Regions from separate parts of the Homo sapiens genome. Here region 2 is linked to region 1. Evidence: fine-mapped expression QTL. A gene starts in region 1. The other region holds a variant in brackets. All regions are shown on one strand. Distances are between the middles of the regions.

Region 1 (10,859 bases):
ATCTGGATGCAAGGGAGGGAAGGGATATGTAGTTCCTGAGTGTGTGTGGCAGAGGGGACAGCCTCTTTCCAGTAAAAACTCTACATTATTGAAAGGGGAACATGAACCTTGGCTGGACAGGTGTCTTTTTGCCAACCACATGTTATAGGTCAGGAATTGCAGTATAGAAATGTGAAAGGGTCAAGATAATATGACTTATTAATGGCAAAGTTAGGGGTGGAGCTCAGCCTCTTTTTCCCCCCAGAAAATACTCGATGGAACCTTCTCAGTGTTAAACCCCATCTAAAGGGAGAGTGGAGTAAAAGAGAGAAAAGAGAGCTTCTGTGGCCATGGACAGATATGAGCATATAGGCACCCCTTCCCTGGGCTCCTCATTTCTCAGGTCTGCCTCCTTAGGCATTGCAAGCAAGTATTCATATATTTAAATGTGCTGCCTGCTGGCTGCCTGTGAGGAGAATGATTTCCTGAATGTAGTACATTTTAAATTTTAGTGAACGTCATTTCCTGGAACGTTTGCAAAACAGGCAGCTTCCCAGGCCCCATCCCAGCAAGTCTGATTCAAACAGCTCTGGGATAGGGCCCAGAAATCTGTGCTTACAATCAGCACCCCTGTGATTTTGAGGCAGGTGGTCCTTGCAACACACATAGAGAGGCACTGCCTTGATTAGTACAAGTTTTATGAGGTTTGCCTAAACAGGTGTTGCAGAGGCTAACTGTGACCTGCCCTTATTGTCTTGTCCTTGACCCCTGATTACATATCACCTGCCTACTAACTGCCAGCCCCTGCATTTTTTTTCCAGAGGTCTTTACATGATCTCTGGAGGCTGCTTTGCCATCCATGTGATAGGCTAGAATTGCCAGAGAATAAACATCATCTGGTAGCAGTTCTTAACTAACATCTTATAAGTGTTGGTGTATAGATACCCCAGCTCCCTCATCCCTCAGTTGGACCCACTCTCTGCTGTGTGTTTTACACTGACTTCCAGAGTTCCCCACTGGGATTAGGTACCAGGTGCCTACAGTGATACCTAGCTTGATAATGCACCCTTTATTGGCTCACTTCCCCACCTGAGTACTGGGATTCCCTTCACCTCTTAAACTACCTGCTCTTGAATCCTTGTTTCAGGTTGTGCTTCTAGGGGAACCCAAATGAAGCCAGTAGAGATGCCCATATACCATATGTCAGAAATTCTTAAAGAATCTTTCCCATGACTCCTGTATGCAGGTATGAGTTGACTGTGGAAGTGCAGAACACACTCATTCATGACATTGGTGTCATGAATCTCATTGGCTCTATCTGACTGTCAGTCTAACATGTCTGATCTTGCTTCTAGCAGCCAGTGTCTAATAAACTGAGCAAAACCCACATGGTACACTCACTGCCATGTGCAGATGGTCTAGCAAGAAAAATATTGTCTTCGTTTCCAAAAGAAACAAATCCCATTCCCACTTTCCCCTGTCAGCTTTGCTCCATGTGGGAGCATCATGCTGTCGATATTTCTCTTGGGTGAGTAGCCTGCAAAGGTTCTCAGCCTTAATGATTACTCCAAAGCAGGAATTGTGGCATAAATCTCCATGTGTGGAATATGTATCACAGCTTGAGTTAAATGGACCCCAAACATATGGCATTGTTTTTTGCATTTTCTAACACATGGGCAGTTTCTCACATTTTAAATCAACTGAAAATGAGAAGATTATAGGCAAATCTTCCTGGAGGATTAACTACTAGGAAATATACTTGGTTTGAATAAACATTTGGGGTGGGATGGAGGATGAGGTCAGACACTTTCCAAAGACACAGTGTGTATTGCAGAGGGTGGGATCCCAAGGGGAGGCAAGGTGGATGACTCTAGAATAAGCTGCATGTCTGGACGGCCTGGTCTTCAGACACTCTCCCCTGACTCAGATTGCAGCAATGAGCAAGCAGCATCATGGTGTTTGGCCCTGACGAATAGAGGTTGTACAGCCAATAACTTTTTCCTGTGAATGTTACTGATAAGGACCAGTCCCTCCTGGAGACAATCTTTCTTCCTGTGTCCCAGTGTTGCTATCAGTCTGGGCGAATTATAACCTGTACATGGGCAAATTATAACCTGTACAGAAGGCTGTGTCACTTGCTCAGGGGCTACTAGATAAAGCCATTGGAAACACTGAAGAATATATAGAAGGGCTCTATTTCTTATTGACCAGATTCCATGTAGGATTTGAGTGATGGTTCTATTTTGAGTATCAAGAGTTAAAGATGATGCAAAACGAAGCATCGGACTTGCACTTTCCTTAGGAGAGATCAAGTCTAGTTTTCTCGCAGAAGGCTGCACCAAAAAGGGCAGCGATGTGCCTGTAAGACATCAGTTCTCTGCAGGTAATGATCAATAGGGAAAGGAGAAAGGCAGCTCATTAGGCATTTCTTCCCCAAGAGGCTCACTCGGCCTCCTTAGGCTTCCAAAGCCACAGCCAGCCTTATTGCCCTTATTATTAAAATGGGCCCACTAGAGCACCAGGCTGCTGCCCTCTTGGCTCATGCCAGGCAACGACCCAACTGGCCCTGCAGCTGGCCTCTAGCCTACCCTGAAGACGATGTGTGGTCAGCAGTTGTCGATGCCCAACGTATTTGCGGGCCTCCTCTGCCTTTCCCCTCCGTCGTGTCTCTTTTCCCCTCAAATTTATCAATGCACACGTAGTAAATGGTCTAAAACGGACTTATTCATACCTCTACGTTATCTGTGATATCATTGCTCAGACCGGGATCATGGGTCTGGAGTTTGGGGTGGAGTGGGCTTCCTGCTATAGAAATCAGGCCACTGCACTTACTTTACACTTCTGGGGGAGGAGGGATCTCTTCCAGTCCCTAAGAAAAGAAAATCTTTAAAGCGTCTTACACGCAGGCGTGCAACCAGGAAGTCCACCCAGCCCCATCTCCGCATAAATTAGGAGCTCTTCCCTCTTCCCACCTTCCTTGTCCCAAGTGGCACCGGACACTGATCACCCTCTTCAGAGCTGCACTAGACATTCACAGGGAATTGAGGTTCCCTATGCAGAAAGGTTTTCAGACAGAGGACCCAGCCCATTTTCTCTCTCCAAATCCTCCTCCCTCCCTCTTTTGTGGTTGCAGCTATAAAATAATGATTCAACAATCAAAGAGCCTCTCATGAGATGGGAGAAGGAAGGGAACGAAAGGGGAAGAGGTGCCCTGGGCTGAAAACCTGTAGATTTTTTCTAAGTGACAAAGGGCAAGGGTCCTTTTTTGAAATTAGGAGAGAGACAGCTGTTTCCTCAATCGAAACTTCGCACATTACAACCAGCCTTGGGAAAAGCCAACACCACCAGGGAGGAAGTGCTATGGGGTTTTGAAGCCAGACACTGATTTCTGGCTGTAATACTTTCCAGCCGTGTCTCTAAGCCTCGGCTTCTGCCTCCATCTGTAGAGTGGGCTTAATAATTTTGACCATCTCACAGAGTTGATGTGAAAATTAAAATAACCCGAACAGAACAGGCGATATATACAGGAATTAATGAAAGATTCCTGACATAATGCTTATAAGTTCATGATGCTTAGGAAGATAAAATTCATTGTAGAGATGCCGAACGGGGGTCTAGAGCTTGCCTTTTCGGGGTCTCTCCCGTCCTTCTCCATCCTCCTTATCTCCTGGGCTGCCCCCTCTCCCCCCGCGCCCCGCTCTCCCTGGCTCGCCCGGGCCTAGGGCGCCGCCTGCAGTTGCGCGCGGCCGCCTCTAGATGGAACTTTCTCACCAACGCAAGGCCCGGCCGGAGCAGCTACCCGGGAGCTGGGCGGCGAGGGGCTACTTTCTCTCATTCCGGCGGGTGCAGGATCGGGGGGCCTGGGCAGTAACTAGTGGGGAGGAGCGCTGGACTGTGCACGTCGAGCCCGGCAGGTTTCCGCATGCGGCATGCGAAGGGAATCCCGAGGTTTCCCTGCAGAACCCGAGCACGGCTCCCCCGGAGTTTCCTGCCCCGCGTCTGCGGCTCCTTGAATCATCTCAATAAAATGACCGTCCCGGTAGCCACCCATGCCCCTTCCTGCGCAGTGCCCGCAGCGGACCGCGCTGTGTGGTACCTCGAGCCCTGGGGACTCTGTTGCACGCGTCCCTCAGACCCTCGGGGGCGGGGAGTGGGGAGACAATCGCCAGAGCCGCGGGGCGGGACAAATGGCGGAACCGCCGCGCGGCGCCAGGCAAACTTTGCAAGGGAACCGCGCGGCTTGCCGGCTCTACTTTAAGCATTCCCGAAAAGAAAGCATGTGGCGGGACACTTGTCATCTACCATGTGTTATTCTCGGTGACGCTTTCTGGAGCTGTGTTCACCGGGGACCCGGGCTCGCGGGTGCTGCCCGCTGTGCTCGGGCGGGCGTCGCGCCTCCCCGCGCCGGTCCCGGGCTCGCCAGGCAGCCGGAGCCGCTGGGCTCCTCCACAACCATATTCCTTCTTCTACCGCTCCCGCTTCTTCCCACCCTCTCACTCTGTAGTTGGGTCCTCCCCTTTTTCTTGGGGGCGGGGAAGGGGGGATGATTTTTAAAAATCAGAACTATTGACATTTCTGGTCTCCTCGTCGCTTCAGGCTGAAGAGCGGAGGGGGATCCGCGGGCCGAGGGTCCCCCTCCCTGCCCGCGCCAGGGCCGCTGGGTGACACCGAAATCCAGAGGCTCCCGCCCCTCGGGGGTTCCTCCTCCCGCTTCCCGAGGTGACTGGTTGGCGCGAAGCGATTGGCGATCCCGGGCGCGATCCTGGCCGCGGCTCCCCGCGCCGCGCCGGGTGAATGGCCGCGGGCGGAGGATCGGGAGGCGCCGGGCGCAGACCAATCGCGGCCGCCGGTGGGAGTATTTGTTATTCACATGGAAGAGACTTGGCGCCTGCTAGGCCAGCTCAGCCCCCTCAGCCCAGAGATCAGCCACAAGTGCGGCCGCTGTGCTCGCCTCACGCGGCGGCGGCGGCGGCGGCGGCGGCGCTGACATGGAGCTGCGGGCCCCCGGCGGGCTTCCTCACCGCGCCCTCTGCGGGGAGCAGGGTAAGACTCGCCGCCCGGCAGCAGAAAGCGGCTCCGAGGAAAGCAAGTGCCGAACCACGGGACAAAAAGCCCCTGGCCCCCAAACTTCCCCAAAACGCCCTGCTTGTTGGAAAAGGAGAATCCCCCCGTTTTATTCCCCTTTCCGTTTTCTTCTCTAAAACCTTTCAGCGGACAGCCAGGTGCACCATTCCTTCTCATATCACTCTAGTGATTTGTTTTTCCTGAGCACAAGTAGATGGCCCTGCATGTCCGTAGTCTGTGAGAGAAATAGCGGGCGGAGGTGACGGGAATGGGGGGAGAAGGAGAGTGGGCACCAGGGGGCGAGGGGCTGGCCGGGCATTGGAGCTTGATTGGGTGTCTGTTGATTTTACGTTGCAAAGAACAAGGCAGCCACCCCTCTTGTCTGCCCATGATTACATTACAGTAAAGAGGTTCAGAAAAGAGGGAGACTTTACCCGGAACTCCCAAGGCTTGGAGATGTGATCCCCCAAAAGTTTAGTCGGCGAATGGGAGACTGAAGGGTGACGGGAAGGGGGCAGGCGCGCTCGGCGCTCTGACTGGGCGTGCGGCGGCAGGATTTTAAAGCGCTCTGCCTCGGATCGTCTGCCCTGGGTGACCTCCCGGACCTGCCCTGGTGGAATCCGGACTTGCCCCGCCGAGATGACGAGGTACCTTCGTTTCGCGAACCTAACAGGAGGGATTTCTGAAGTTAGCGGCTTCCGGGATGAGTCGGGGTAACCCCCGCCCTCTGAGCGTGGGCTGGATGGATGTCTAACCAGGATCTAGGGAGGATGGGGGTCGCGGGGGAAGCCGGGCGCTTCGGGGTCCTCGACACCCACATCCCCGCACGGCGCACGCTCTGCCTCGAGTTTGCGTTCTCCGAGTTAGCACGGCGAGCTTGGGATTTCCGTGCCCCTCTTTTGTGGCTTTCGAGAAACGCCGGAGTTCCGTGTCCTGCTGGGGGTTGGGGGGATGGAGAAAAGGTCTCGGGGATCTTGTTTAAAAAGCAAAGGCAAACGCACCCCAACAGCTCCTCGGTAGCTCCCGCGGCTGGCGCGGCCCCAGTTTCGGGCGGCCCCGCGCGGGGCGTGGGCGCGGGCGCTCGGGCGGCCAGGTGCGGCGGGGGCGGAGGCTGCATCCCCAGCGCGCCGGAATGCCCCGGGGCGCGGGAAAGGCAAAAGCAGCCTGGCGCTCTCCCCACGGCCCCAGTCTCTATCTACCCAGAACCCGGCTTCAACAGCCCAAGGAACTGAGAAGAAAAAGGAACCTGCGCTGGGAAACAGGGGCTCCTGGCGGGCTGAGTGGTCGCTGTTATGGTAGAGATAGAAACGGAGAGGTAGAGATGGACCGCTCAGCCATGCCAAGCGCGAAGCCCATCCGCCCAGCCAGAAAGCTCGGATATCCCTTGAGCTTCGTACAGTTGGTGAAAAAATAACAGAATCACCAAAAAAGAAAAAAAAATTCCCTTCGTCTGACACGCGCTCCCTTGGTGCAAATGAAATGCGGAGGGACACGCGAGTCACCCAGTTGCGCAAAACCGCACCCCCGCGGTTCCCTGGGGAATTACTTCCCCCGTGGCCCAAACTGTGAAGCCTGGTGTCAGAGAGTGTCTGCGCACCCAAGATAGCGGGGGTGAAAACAGACCCCCTCGCCGGTTGCAGAAACCCTTAAGTCCCCTAAGCAAGTCCCACCCCGGGAGGGAGTGCCTTATTTGCCATTTGGGGGATCCTTTCCCACAAACCTGAAGGTGCGGGAGTCTCTGGAACACCCAAGAATACACTAGAGTCTGGGCTACTACCGCGATTGAATACAAATCCTGCCAACTGACAGAACTGGAAAACAGGGTTGGTGGTGGAGATACAAGAAAAATCATGAACGGGAGAAAAGCATTCCTATGGTAGCTTGTATTTTGCTTGAAAGAAAAATAGAGAAAAAGAGCCACCAGCAGGTAGATCGTGGATAAACAGCTTATTGCACTTGCCTGTAATTTCCACTTTCCGTTATGAAATTGTTTGTCAATAATTGCAAATGGCTACAGAAACCACTTTAGTTTACCTTGGTCACTTGCTTGTGAATAATACCGTGAAAGATCTCTGTAGGAGGCAGAATCAGCTGTGTGCAATTCATTCTCTGGTTCTTGAAAACGTGTGGCTTGATAATTTTGAAAAGAAAAGCTTCCTCCGTCAGGGAAAATGAACCAAGGTTTTTTAAAATGCAATTTTTCCATTTTAGAGTCAACTACAGGTTGTACCATGTCTAAGATAGAGAATTCTTGCTTTTGAATAAGGGATGTGGGGAGAAATAGATGACGGGAGGCTTTGTAGGAGACAATTGACCCGGAATAAAGAAGAAGATACTGAGAACACAGCTGTATACTGTTCCTTAGGCTCAATTTGTTCTGTTTGGATTGTGCTAGCTAGTTCTGCCCTGTTATGCACCGTTCGAAAGTTATGGCTGCTTGAATAATTCTAAAAACATCTACATCCAAAAGGAATAGAGAAAAGGAAGAGCTGAGCTCCAGTGAGTGCAGGAGAAAGTTAGAGGTCTGGAGAGATGTGCTCTTTTCAAAGTTGGCTGAGCAGGTTGAAGCTGCTGCGGGGCTTGTTTAATTGGTATTTATGCAGCAAATAACCCGTCTGACATTCACATTGGCAATTGCGTGCCAATCTTTGTGTATGAATGTTCCATTGTCTTCAGGGCACGATGTACAGCACACTACACACATGTTTTTTTCCTTCCAAGTTTCCTTCCTACCACCTTTCTCAGGTAGTTAGAATGCCCATCATAAAGATGACCTTGCTTTAGTTGGGGGGAGTGGAGTTGCTCTGTCCCAGTGTCTTAAAAGAAGATGCTGCTTGAATTTCTCTCTTCCTGGACCCACAGCCAAGACCTGGCCACATCTCCATGTCTGTCAAGTTGGCTGGCTTGCGGAGGTTCAGGAAACTTGCTGTTTTCTTGATAGACTCTGACTGGGCATCCCCAGACTCACAAATGTGGTTCATTCAATAGGGACGGCCACTTCATGTTGTTCCCAGGAGAGGCTATGAGCTGAGAGTTGGCTGGCTTATTGTTTCCATTTCAAGAGAGGGTTTTCTTTCTGCTAGGAATTGGAATTTAGATTTGGGCTTTCTCTCTTTTTTCTTTGATTTTCATTTCTACTTGGTAATTTGACAAATTGCGACAAACTCACCCACTCACTGGGAGGGACGCTGAGCATAATATTGTCTCATCCCAGGACACCCTTTCTCAGTGGTGGGCAATGCTGTTGGAATGATTTGAGAGGTACTGTTGAGACGCTCCTGACTCCTAGCTCTCTGCTCTGGCTTGTTGCATTGCTAGCCTTAACCATTATTAATGGTGATATTTCTTTGGTAAATAAATTATGGCTCTCCTAGGAATCATTTTGAGAATGCAGATGTTCCATTTGGGGATGACAGTAATGCATCTTCAGGCTTTGATACCTGCTAATGAATCCACTCACTCCCTGGGGAGGGCCAAGGTAATGAAAGAACAAAGGCACTGAGGGAAGGAAGAGACCTAGTTCTGGGGAGGTCAGCGCAGGGCAGGGCAGGGCAGGAGGTGAACAGAAGTAGGAATATCTAGGAGAGCCCTCAGAGGAGTATAGATTGTTGGACACATGTGTTGCCAATTTCATACTTTTCCAGGCAGGGTTATGCCTAAAGCTAGAAAGCTGCTGGCTATTTATTGGCTGACTTTTCCAGTGGTCATGACCCAGCGGTAGAAGCATTATATTGTACCTACAACTTAGGAAGGTTTCCGGTTGTCTTGTTTTCACAACAGGAGATTATCTTGTCACCACTTTCTTCAGAATAGCGATTTAGATGCTCAGTGTCCATGACCTTTAGTTTTCCAGGTCAGGCATGGTAGTTCCATTGACTTCTTCTTGCGTCCTTTCCAGTTTTCCTTCAAGCTCTGTGCTCTCCATATAGGCTTGCCAGGGTTGACTTTTTTTGGACCTGTGACCGTTGTTAAGGTCTGACTAGACCCAAGCGTGATGAGAAAGTGGTTTTCTTAGATCTTCTAAGTACAATACACCAGTAACATATTTTAGTTCTAGGACAGATTGTTAGACTAATAGTATCCCTGTGCATTCTTATAGCACTTGGCAGTTTATAAAGTACTTTGACACACATTATATTGTTGGATTTCACAAACTGGGAGATGGGGGAAAATCATTCCCCATTTTAGAAACCAAGAAACTGAGATCTGGTTAAGTGACTTGCCCAGTGCTATACAGTGAGTACTGGGGGAAGTAAGACTAGAATCAGTGTCTCCTAGGACTCTAGAACATCTCACTCCCAGTCCTCATTATCAAATCAGGGTTAGTTTGAGATCCAGCATGGCCTCCTGCCCCCATGGGGCATGGAGTAAGGGAAGGAACATAATGGCAGTCCTGCATTTGAATTCTCGCCTGAGACTTTAGACACAGTCATATAATCTTTCTGTTTTCAGGTTCCTTAGATCCTGAATGGAGGCTGTGATACCATCCTCATAGTTGTATTTTAGAGGGAAATGAAATAATGTGTCTGCAGCTCCAGGCACACTGCAGGCAATCAGTAAGTGTTGATGTCACCCACTTTCTCTCTTCTTATCTGATACATATTATAAAAAGTAGCTTCTCATTACTTTAAATATGGTCTTTTTGTGCAATAGCTGTGTTATTGGAAAAATAAAGGCACAAATTGAATTCTCCTAAATCAGATTTTTTTTTAAATGCCTGGGATTTAGCTATTTAAAGGAAACCTGTGGTGAATTCTTCTGTAATGCAAATAATTACTTTCCAATTTATCTGTTTAGTAAGTCGAGCTTCTCCTGTATCAGATTTTTTAAAATATGAGGCTGGCTTGTGTAGAAGAGCTTTCACAATCCTCTCACTGATGAAAAAAAGTCACTCAACTTGCAAACAAAATCAGTTATTGTGTTCAGTTGGCAAAGCCTTGCTCTGATGTTTGAGCATAATCTCATATTCCCTTATTATTAAGTAATAGAATCTCAGAATAGGAAGCTGGAAGACACCTTAGAGATCACGTGGTCCATCTCACTCGTTTCACAGATGAGGAAATGGAAGCACATAGGGGTGAGGGGACATGTTCAGTGTTACCAGCCAGTGACTGTCAGACAAAGATCCGATTCCAAGCGTCTGTTGCCAAGGGAGAGCTCTGTCTGCCCCATCCTCACTCTGCCCCACCAAGAATCCATAGACATGCACACATATTGCAGCATGGGAGATGATACAGAAATACGATGCATTTTCAAAACAACCAAAAGAGCTGCAAGTGTGAGCAGTCATATGAATTGATGAGAATATTCAGCTTAACCTTTTTGTTAAAGAGCTGAATGGAATGCAGCATAGGAATGCTGCTTTGGCCTTTTTATGAGAAAAAAATTACAATTCTTGGATAATGGTATTCCTCAGTGAGGATTTTACCCTATCATATTTTAATCATACCTGCTAAATGCCCAAGGAAGATGTGATGGCAGACCCAGAGAGACCCTGCATGCGTTGGTGGGTGTGTTCCACCTGACATCACCTTGACATCAACCTGGCCAGGAGACCTCATTTGGAGCAGAAGTGTTTGGACAAACCGCATTGGATCTTCTCAGCCCTTTGAGAGATTCAGAAATCACCTCCCTGGAAATGCCCCCAGATTGTCCCTTCCTAATTAATATGTTAGTGTTCTTCCAGAGCTAAGCATTGAAGATGTGCACCTTTCTGAAAGATTGCAGTGGAGGGGCAGGGCCATTCCCTTTCCTTGTGCTGCCACAGTGAGTCCCTGCAGCACTGGGGTCTTTCTCCAAGGACAGGACCCACCTTC
Region 2 (10,859 bases), 360 kb after region 1:
CAAAGTCTGCAAAGCAGATTGTAAAGTTTGCCATCTCAGAAACAAAAAATATTCTGAACACTTAGAAAACTGTACTGTCAATCGTAAATACACATAGAGTGGAGGAGTTGAAGAGGTCCTTAGAGATTATTTAGCTCAGTTTCCTCACTTTGCAGAAAGGGAAATTGAGGCTCATCTGGTCAAGTTGGTTGTCTAAAGCCCTGTAGCTACCTAACGATGATAGGACTGAAGTCTGATTTGATACTTGCTTCTTTCCTTCATCCTTTCCTGCTCTGAAGAACTTTACCGAAGTGGGGCTGAGTTGCACTGACCCATTCTACTATTTTTCCTGGTATATGGGCCAGTATGTTTTTTTTCTTGGCCACCTAAGGTGAAGTATTCCCTCTTTGTGAACCGCCTGACTTCTGAGGGAGTCAGATTGATGCATTTGGTCTGAGAAACTAACATTTTTAGAAGGGAAGCAATTCTAGTTAAAATTTCGAGTACGTAAATACTCACATTTTTTCAGAAAATAATTTAAAACAGAAAAATGCTCACACTACAGAGAGAAAAAATGAATTCAGGAGTCTAGGAAATCCTTTCTGCAAAACCCACAACAGAAGCTGGCATTATCTTGATTGATTGGAAGATGAATGTATCTGAATAAACACAATCTCTGGAATATTACACTGAAGAACTCACAAATGGAAAAGAGTATATAGGCAAACAGGTGACAGTTCAGCATTTTTGATCACCAATTATTTGAAAAACTATGGTAAGGCTTGGGCCAGAGAGGATGAGAAAGTTTAGAAAAATACAGAAACATTAGGATAAATTGTCTTCCTTTAAATGGCTATTAAACTTCAGTTGAGGGAACCAATTCATTAAAACCAAACAAACTTTTAAAAAGGAACAATGTATAGATGATTCAATATCAGGAAAACTTGATTTCTCCTCTTTTCTAAAAGTGATACAAAGCAGATAAATACAGGAGACTATATTTCAAAAATAATATTTCTTCTCTATGTTTTATCTTGGGATTCTTTTTAACTCAGAGGATTTGAGAGAGTCTCATAGATATGATTTGCTGAAATACAAGAGAATTACCACAACTTCTTAGGAACATAGCTAAACAAAAGAACTAGCTGAACAAAGGATTGGATACAGTAGGGCAAAGGAGACATAAAGTGTGATTAGAGCTTACTAAGGCTAATTGAGAAATTAAGACTAAGTGTGATTAGAGCTTACTAAGGCTAATTGAGAAATCAAGACTACCGAAGAGTCTTGATTTTTTTTTATTACTTATGACATTTGTTAAACTCTATATTGTGCTAAACATCTGCCCTCAAGGAGCTTATATTTTGTGAGGAAGATAATAGTCAGACAATAGTTTGTAAGTTGCTAGTAAGCAGGGTCTGTATCCTCAGGACTTAGCATATGCTTAGCATTATATATCTGTTAAGTTAATTAATTGGTCTATAATGTATGGCCAGATAGTCCTCCTGTTCTTCATTACAGTGATGTAGATATGATGCATGGTGCCTAGCTTGGCATGCATTTGATAAATATTTTAATTGTTGGAATGATATTTTTTAATAAAAGGAAAAGCTCAACATAGTTATAAAAGGGCTTTTACTGTAATTTAAGAAGAAAATGTACTATTCTGATAGTTTGTCTTTAAATTCCTGACTGCGATGCTAATTTAAATGGGAATATGATTCTAGAAACACATATAGTCCTGTGTCCTATAAAATCAGTCAAATTTTATTGGAGTATTTGGTTACCTGAATATTTAACTGGAATATTTGGTTACCTGAATATTTAATTGGAATATTTGATTACTTCATTATAAATGCCATGACTCCATAGTGTTTTGTTTTTCTAAAAAAATAAAATTACATTTATACTATTTGAGGGGAAAGCACTTTATTTCCATACTACCTCTAATGAGGTAACAGAATAATGAAAAGACAACTTGGAGTACATAATGGAAAATGTCATTTAAAAAGGTTTCATTTATACAATTTTAAAAATGTAAAAAGTTCATGTCCTTTGCCCACTTTTGATGGGGTTGTTTTTTTCTTGTAAATTTGTTTGAACAGACACTTCTCAAAAGAAGACATTTATGCAGCCAAAAAACACATGAAAAAATGCTCACCATCACTGGCCATCAGAGAAATGCAAATCAAAACCACAATGAGATAACATCTCACACCAGTTAGAATGGCAGTCATTAAAAAGTCAGGAAACAACAGGTGCTGGAGAGGATGTGGAGAAATAGGAACACTTTTACACTGTTGGTGGGACTGTAAACTACTTCAACCATTGTGGAAGTCAGTGTGGTGATTCCTCAGGGATCTAGAACTAGAAATACCATTTGACCCAGCCAACCCATTACTGGGTATATACCCAAAGGACTATAAATCATGCTGCTGTAAAGACACACGCACATGTATGTTTATTGAGGCACTATTCACAATAGCAAAGACTTGGAACCAACCCAAATGTCCAACAATGATAGACTGGATTAAGAAAATGTGGCACATATACACCATGGAATACTATGCAGCCATAAAAAATGATGAGTTCATGTCCTTTGTAGGGACATGGATGAAATTGGAAATCATCATTCTCAGTAAACTATTGCAGGAACAAAAAACCAAACACCGCGTGTTCTCACTCATAGGTGGGAATTGAACAATGAGAACACATGGACACAGGAAGGGGAACATCACACTCTGGGGACCGTTGTGGGGTTTGGGGAGGGATAGCATTAGGAGATATACCTAATGCTAAATGACGAGTTAATGGGTGCAGCACACCAGCATGGCACATGTATACATATGTAAATAACCTGCACATTGTGCACATGTACCCTGAAACTTAAAGTATAATAATAATAAAATTTAAAAAGTAAAAATAAAAATGTAAAAAGTTATACAAATATTAAAACTATATTTATTTATACAATTTAAGCATTTTCTAAAAAATTATTAGTTTATTAGGGTTTTTTTTTTTTTTTTTTTTTTACCCTGCAAGAACATGAGCTTCATATAGGAAGAGATTTTGTTTCATTCACAGCTGAATCTCAGTGCCTTGGGTGGCATCTGGCACAAATAGGCTTCCTTAAAATATTTGTGGATTAAATGAAAGAATTAAATTCAGCTTATTTTCTGCTCTTTTTCAAGCACTAGCTATTAGATGTCAAGGACATGTTCGTGAGCAAAACAAAAATGGTTATTGTCCTCATGGGGCTTACAGTCTAATTGGGAAGGTGAATAATTTAGCCCAGTTCCTGCAATGCAATGTGTTAAGCGAATAGCCAGCATATAGCAGGGAGAACTGATGTAGCCTAGGGGAGAAGATTGGTGTCATTGAAGTTGAGACTAAAATATGAGCAGAATTAAGAAAAAGAGATTATCAGTAGTATTATTATTTTAACCAGAGGGTGGCACAAAGACCAGTGGGCAAGAGAAAGGATGGCAGTTGTAGAGACTAGGAGAGGGGGATAGGAAGAGAGTAAGGATAGAGACCTAGGCAAGGGACAGATCATATAACACTTTATATGCCTCAAGAGGCAGTTGAAAAATGTTTTGAAAGTCAATGAATGGGCACCAGAAGGTTTTAAGCAGAATAATAGAATCACCATCTTAGAAAGATTATTCTGGCTGTAGTATGGATAATGTATTGGTGAGGCATAACACTGGAGGAAGGGAGACCCATGAGATACTACAGTAATTTTCCAGAAATGATAGTGGCCCAGCCTATGATGGTTGCACTGTACTAGGAATGGACAGAAGTAGATGGATATATTAATAAAAAGACATTTTAGGGATATATGTAGGGCTTGGCAATTAATTGCATGTTAAAGGAGAGGACAAATCATGGATGATGCCTTGATTCTTGGAATGGGAAATTCGGTCATTGATTGAAAGAGCATTCCTGATATAATGAATGATTGGGGAAGAGGGGGAAGGAGGATGATGAATTTTGTGGGAGATACTGAGTTTAAGGATCCTATGAGATATAGAGCTGCAGATGTCTGGGAAGGGTTACTTGGTTATGTGAGTCTGAAGCTAAGAATACAAGGTCTTGCTGAGACAGAGAATTGGGGCCTCACTAGTATATTAATGGGACTTGGTGAGACAGATCCAGAAAGTATGTGGAGTGGAAATTGCAGAGGGCCTGAGATAGAGCCTTGAGGACTCAGAAATATGTTGAAGGAGAGGACCCTGCCATTCCAGTTTCTGTAGAAATTGTTTTCACTGTCCATAAGTGGAGCCCCTCTGGCCATGTCTCTATTCTACAACCCTGATCCTCTCCTTTGTGTCTCTTCAGCCACAACTGATTGATTTAACACTGAGCTCTTCACTAAAGCTAAATTATCAGAGTCCTTCCGAGTAATATCTAAAATGGGAGTGAAAGGAGGAAGATTATTCTCTCTCAGGGGGTGGGAGGCAGTAGTTTGAGGCTGTGAGATATGAGGCTGGGAAGTTTCCACCACAAGGGGGAAGCTGACCTGGAAGAATAATATTGACTTGTGCAACAGAATAAAGGTGACAGATGGAAAGAGTTCTGATGGTGATGAGGACCTTAACCAGGCTTTTCTTGTAGATATGTGAGATAGTTCAAGGTTCTCCTAATTATGTTTTCCCATTTTTAGCTAGCAACCTAGAGTCCAGACTAATACATTAAAATAATACTTGCCTCATAGAGCGGTTGGGAAGTTAAAGGAAATAATATGCATAAAGATTATTGCCTGCTACATAGGGAATATAACAGATACTGTTGCTTACTGATTTAACAACTTCCTTTTCTTTGAAGCCAGCACTATCTAATAGAACTTTCTGAGGTGAAGAAGGTTTTTCCATATCTGCATTGTTTAATAGAGCAGCCATTAGTGACATGTGGCTATTGGTCACTTGATGGAATATGGCTAGTGCAAACTGAAAAAATAGAATTTCAAATTGTATTTAACTTTAATTACTTTACACTTAAATGTAAATGTAACTTTGATTTCTTTACATTTAAATGTGGCTAATGACTATCATATTGGACAGCAGAAGTCTAGGGTGATAGACCTATAGAACAACAATTTTTAAAGCCATTTTGGATCGGATTTTCTATCATTTGCAGCTGCAAGCATCCTAACTAATACAATGTATTAAATATAAGTGGAAATGATTTATTTAACATGGCATGAGCATCCCTCATTTTAAGATATTAAAGAATTAAATTTTTGTTTTTATATAGAAATTCTGAATTAAGTCAGAAGGTCAATATTTGCAATACACACAAATTATTAAACTAATTTCTCACAGGTTTCCTAAGTACCAGCTTCTCAGTCAGTGAATATAAAATGTGATTTGATTTATTAAAATTAAAATGATATACAGCTTTTCAACAACATTTCATTCAGATATATTTCTACATAAGTTGCAGAATTATAAAACACACATATTAGAGATTGTCCCTAACTTTATCAAAACAATTCTCCTTTGGGTTCCTTTAACAACATGCCCTCTAGTCTACCAAAATATTATTTTACAGATGGTGGGGGTGTGCTACTTGCAACCCAGATAGACAATAATTCAGCTAAGCATTTTTCTTTGCAGTAAGTGAAAATCTGTTCAAAGTGCTGGAAGTTTTATCAACTGGACCATAAGACCCAAGAGGAACTAAGTGTTTCTGTTATGCTTTCTGTGTTTA[A/C]TAATTCCCAGCCTTGTTAGTAGACACTCAAACACTGCATCCTAGCTGTGGAATCTTGGGTGGGTAACATAGTCTCTGAGAAATTTTGATAAATGCTTATTTTCCGCATTTTTAGATTTTGGTGGTGAGAGTGGTGGTTGCAACCTTTATGCCTGTCTTTCACAAAGGTCACTCAAATTGCTCTGGTTTCTTTTTATGTTACCAAAACGCTCTATAGCTAAACTATTGAGCTTAAATGTCAAACTTGCATTATGTTTAGAAATGGGTACTTATCTCTTTATGCACCTTTCCCTTACACCCCAACGGTGGGCCGACATAGGATATGGTAGAGGAGTTAGTATTCTGACAAATAGGTGATGTCATTCCACCCATGTATCACTTTCCATTAAATCTTTGACCCATATATAACCTTTAGCTGCAGGCTTGTTTGCTTACATCACTGTGATCAAATGGTTAGAATTGTAGATTTTCATTTGGGAAAATGATTATTATTTTTTATTAAGGACATTATTGCTGGTTTGAATTATCCTTTTGTTCATGGTTCATGCACAACAAAGCTTTCCCTAGCCCTTCTGTGGGAGGTGGAAAGATGCTCTGCACCTGTCTCCTACCCAGATCTCTTTCAGAAAGAAAATAGACAGTGCTAGCTAAGCTGTTGGATGGGAGCAATATTCAGTTCTTTGCCAACAGAGATCCTAGACTCCAGATATGCCAATTCAGCAAACCACAGGGAGATTATCTAAAACTGAAAAGGGGCTCAAGAATCCATCAGAATATGAGATAATTTAAATAAAATTTAAATCCTACTGGCCAACAGAGAACCAGAGGACATTAGAGAAGGAAGGAAACTTGGAGGTCATCCTGTTCGATATTTTGCTGAGTGTCACCTGTCAGGCTGATGTAAAATGAGGACAGGGAGTACATAGAAACATTTCGGTTTCTCTGATTCAGTAGTACTCTTGAAGGCCTTTATTGGTGGTGCAAAATGAGGCTTTCTCATTGACTCTAAATAGGCTTATTAGCAGCACGCAGAAGGATTTCCACTGTGATCTTTTCTTTGTCCCTAGTCAGAGTGAAGGCATAGGTCTGAAGCAGGCTGATAGCTTTGGAAGTGAAAAGTACTGGCAGGCTGAGGGCACAGAATGGGCTGGCTGCCAGTGTTGGGTTCAGCACCCTGAGGAGTGTCATTTGTCAGAGCCACTTTTATGAAACAGAAGCCCTCTTTTGTGTATTTGTACCTGTGAAAGGGAGCAGTGGTATAGCTGATCCAAAGTAGCAGAAAAACAAATAATTCATATTGACTTAGGATGCTCACCTACCCCCTCTTTTGCAGGAGTGTTAGTTTGCATGTCAATACATGGACAGCCTCCTTGGATTCTGGCATGATGCTTTCCATAGGGGTTTCATTAATTGGTGCAAAAGTTTATTTCAGTAGAGTCCAGGAAACTGTTAGCTTTTTGTTCTCTGCCTAATGACAGAAAATGTCCCTGTGACTGATTTCTTTGTGGGACCAGTCTGCATCATTCCTAAGACTGACACAAAGCCCCGCTTGAGTGTGTGGGATGAACGGCATGACTCACACGTTCCCCTGGAGAACTGCAGGTTTGATTAAATGTTTAAATGACCTTTTAGGACAGATGATTATGAGGATGGGCAAACAATTTGTTCTTTCAATTCTTAATAACTTCAGTGTGTATTGCGAGGGGGAGGTATATGTAGACAGTTTGGAGGAGTGTGAACAAGAGACTTGGGTAATCACTGGAGATAAGGGTGATGATGATGATAATTTGATATAAATAAGCAGAGAGTAAGATTTGTCAAAAAGGGGCAAACTCATTGCTGTTCTCAATATCTCCCTTCTTTCACTTCAAGCACAGACACTCACAACATGTTCTGTTTCTGATAACTTCCTAAGCACACAGGAACTCCAGGATTTCTCAAGGACCACAGCCCTGTGGCCAAAAATCTTTTTCCTTGACTGCTCTCTGGGCAGCTCAGTAGTATCTTTAACATGGCAAATATAAAGATAGTAGATTCACTACAAAGACACCTCGAGAAAAATACTGCCTGCATTTGTAAACCATACACAGTCTTATTATTCAATTTGTCTTTATGGAAGCTATCAGTTAGCTACACGTTTCCTTTCCTATGTCTGATGTACCTATCTCTAGTTGATTCTTTCTCTCTAACTCTACTTCTTGAAACACTCTCTGCTGGTTTGATTTTCAGGTGCATTCATCCTCTTTTCAGATTCCAGAATGAAAACTTCCTTTTTGAGACACCCAGATAGATTACCTCTTCCTTAGTCCACCTGGCCCTTATCCACGTCCCTTGAATGAGTTTTCTTTGTCTGGACACATTTCTGAAGTAATACTTCTCTGCACTCCCAAAATACAGCTCTTCCTTCTTTCGGCCTTTTGCTGTGTTCTATTACATTATTTCATTGCCACTCAGAATAAGCACTAGATAGACATCTAAGGTTTAACTTTACATTTTATATATTTTATTATATCAAAAACTGGTCACATATAAACTGTAGTACTTGGGAATTGAGGGTATTTCTTGAGTATTACAAGAAAGTATTACTTTCTTGAGAAGATATTACTCAAAAATATATACATTTTGGATAAAGAAATTTTGACAGTATAAGATGAATTAGCAATGATGTTTTTCAGAAAACACGTAGGCAGTAACTTCATTTATATGACCATGTTATTAATCTGTAGGCATTAATGGATTTATGTAGCCTGTTCAGAAATTAATGAAGCCTGTTTTCTATGGATTTTGTTATTAGCTCCTTCCCTCTTCTTTTGTCTTCTTGGCATCACTGTTGACATCACTGATGGGAATCCCACTACTGCAGCCATTGCAAGTGTTTTTGGTGATTATTGTTCACTTAGGCACCTTTGTGCACTAGATCTCTGATCAAATTATTTTGAAATTTTAATATGAAATACATAGGAGAAAAAATTGAAAATGTGTAGCAGTAGGAAAGCTTTTCTTTGTTAAAAAAGTGTAATTTAATAGAGTAAGAGGTGTGAAATATGTCAGGAATTTTGCTAACATGAAATTTCATCATTTGTCCAGTTGTGTACTTAATGGATTCATCTTAAGTATACCGTAATTCCTGGCAATAATGTGGGGAAGCTCAGATTTACTTTTCAGTGCATGTTAGTATGTAAAATGACCCCTATCTTCAATATCTCTATGTTTTAACACCTGCTTTGTTTTTACAATAGAGGCCCTTGTTTGGAACAAAGCCACTTAAGCTGAACGTCATTGTACCTGCACAGTTACCTGGGTTATCTGTGGTTGTGATGAAAATTACACCACCATAATCACCCCAGGCTACTTACAAGGCACCTTCATAGAAATTATACTGTGCCAAGTGCCACAAAGAATATCAAAATGCAGCCCCTGCTTCAGGCGCTTATGTTTCCAAGGGGAAAAAAACTGGCCTTTGGATTTAGATAAGAAACTTTATTGTGATTACAAATTGGATTTCCTGTTTTTATTTCAGGAAAGTTATATTTGAAGGTAGAAGATAGCTAGAATTGCCATTTATCTCACCCCTGGAGGGTTTGAAACCATTCTTGAATGAGTAAATGTATTCAAAAATTTAAAATTAAATCAGATTTGTTATATGGAATCATTTAAACCTAATTTCTTAATTAAAGACATTTTAAGTTCACTTTCTGTTCCTTAGGTGTAAACATCTCATGCTACAAAAAACAAGAATAGATTCCACTGCTGGGGTGAAAAGCCACGACTTTTCTTCCTGTGTTCTGTTTCCCAGGCCTATCAAAGATATTTAAGTACTGAGTTAGGTCTGGCTAGGGAACTCTCCTGACTGCTTTAGGGGCACAGATGATAGGGAAGAAAAGAGTAGACTGTGGGGGTTAGTCTTGGAATGATTTCAGTACTCCCCTTTGATGGTGATAGCTGCTTCCTGTTAGGAACTTCTGTTGGAAGCATACTTCTTACCTGAAGAAAGTTCTGGGTTGAGACAGTTCTACCTTGACTTATTTACCAAGGCTTCTAAACCATATAGCACATCACTATGAATACACTCAGGGTGGGGGCAATGGATCCTACCCAGATCCCTGTAAAGCCAGCGTGGTTCTGCAACCATCATTCATGGATAAGGACCAAGACTGAGCTGCTCTGGTTGAAGAAGCTGTTGGATGATATGGGGTTTGTGCCAGAGTGTGGTGAATTCATTTTCCAAGATATGCTGGGCTCACTCTCAGCAAGGCCAGCTGAAAGCTGAGTCTGCTTTGGATGCAGAGGTATGTAGTCAGTGGCTGTGCACAGGACAGGACTTTGGGATGTACAGAGGGATATACTATCCTTACAAATACTTCCTTCAGCTGTTTGCTGATGAGCAAGATTCCAGGAATAGGATACAAGGCCCCTAACTTGTCTTAACTCTCTGATTAGGTCAGATCTCCCTACTGTATGCCCATAGTGCACCATACTCATTTTAGCTTTTATTACAGTTACAGTTGTACATTTATTTGTGGGGTTGTTTGATGCATATTTATCTCTTATTAAATTGTAAGCTCCATGAAGATAAGGAGCATATCTTTTTGCTTATCTTTGTGGCCACTGTGCCTGTCACATAGAAGGCACTGGATAATCCTTTGTTAAATGAATAACTAGACCTAAAAAATACTTCAAGGTAGGTGATGCAGTCATTAAGTTCACACTACAATGAAAGACAGTTCTTCCCAACAGGACATTATATGTTTTTTCTGCTATCATTTCTATTTGCTAAATTGACTTTGAGTTTGAGAAATTGGGCTATGATGCAATATGTGCATAAAATCTTCAACAAATACTGTGTTCCATTTTTTTAAAGCAAGGATAAGGATGAAAAAAATAAAAAGATGAAAGAGTTTATTTAAGCTACTGATATCCATTTGTTGGTTGAAAAAATATGTGGCTGTTTGCATTTTGTTTAGCCACAGAACTCCCATATAAACATTTCTATCTTTGACAAAGGTTTATGCAATTGATCTGGCTGCTCATTTTTCCCCCGTGATTTCCTTTTTTTAATTCACAGGTGAATGACATTTAGTTCTCGGTTGTGGAAAATGCTCTTAATGCCTCCATCTTTTAAGGAGATGTTCCTATAGCTCAGTTACTTTGAATATAGTTTTTTGTTTTGT

Alleles and levels. Positions count from the first base shown, and alleles are read on the strand shown. Sizes are in standard deviations (SD) of each study's normalised expression.
As copies of C replace A in region 2, the expression in lung of the gene that starts at base 4,878 in region 1 goes up (small effect, 0.22 SD a copy in GTEx).

Evidence for each region. PIP is the estimated chance that this variant, and not a neighbour inherited with it, causes the effect.
Region 2: its variant is fine-mapped to the expression of GRM8 in lung (TOPMed, PIP 0.92).

What each region holds. Positions count from the first base shown.
Region 1 is chr7:127,246,960-127,257,818 of GRCh38, reverse strand. GRM8 (glutamate metabotropic receptor 8) reads left to right here and starts at 4,878. Exons shown (of 11, transcript NM_000845.3): 1 at 4,878-5,022. RefSeq lists a silencer at 3,611-3,670 and an enhancer at 3,791-4,040.
Region 2 is chr7:126,884,171-126,895,029 of GRCh38, reverse strand. The region is part of intron 6 of GRM8 (glutamate metabotropic receptor 8); the gene reads left to right. Among named protein-coding and RNA genes, the nearest start is that of MIR592, 170 kb to the left of the region's middle. The variant A/C (reference allele first, on the strand shown) is at 5,689.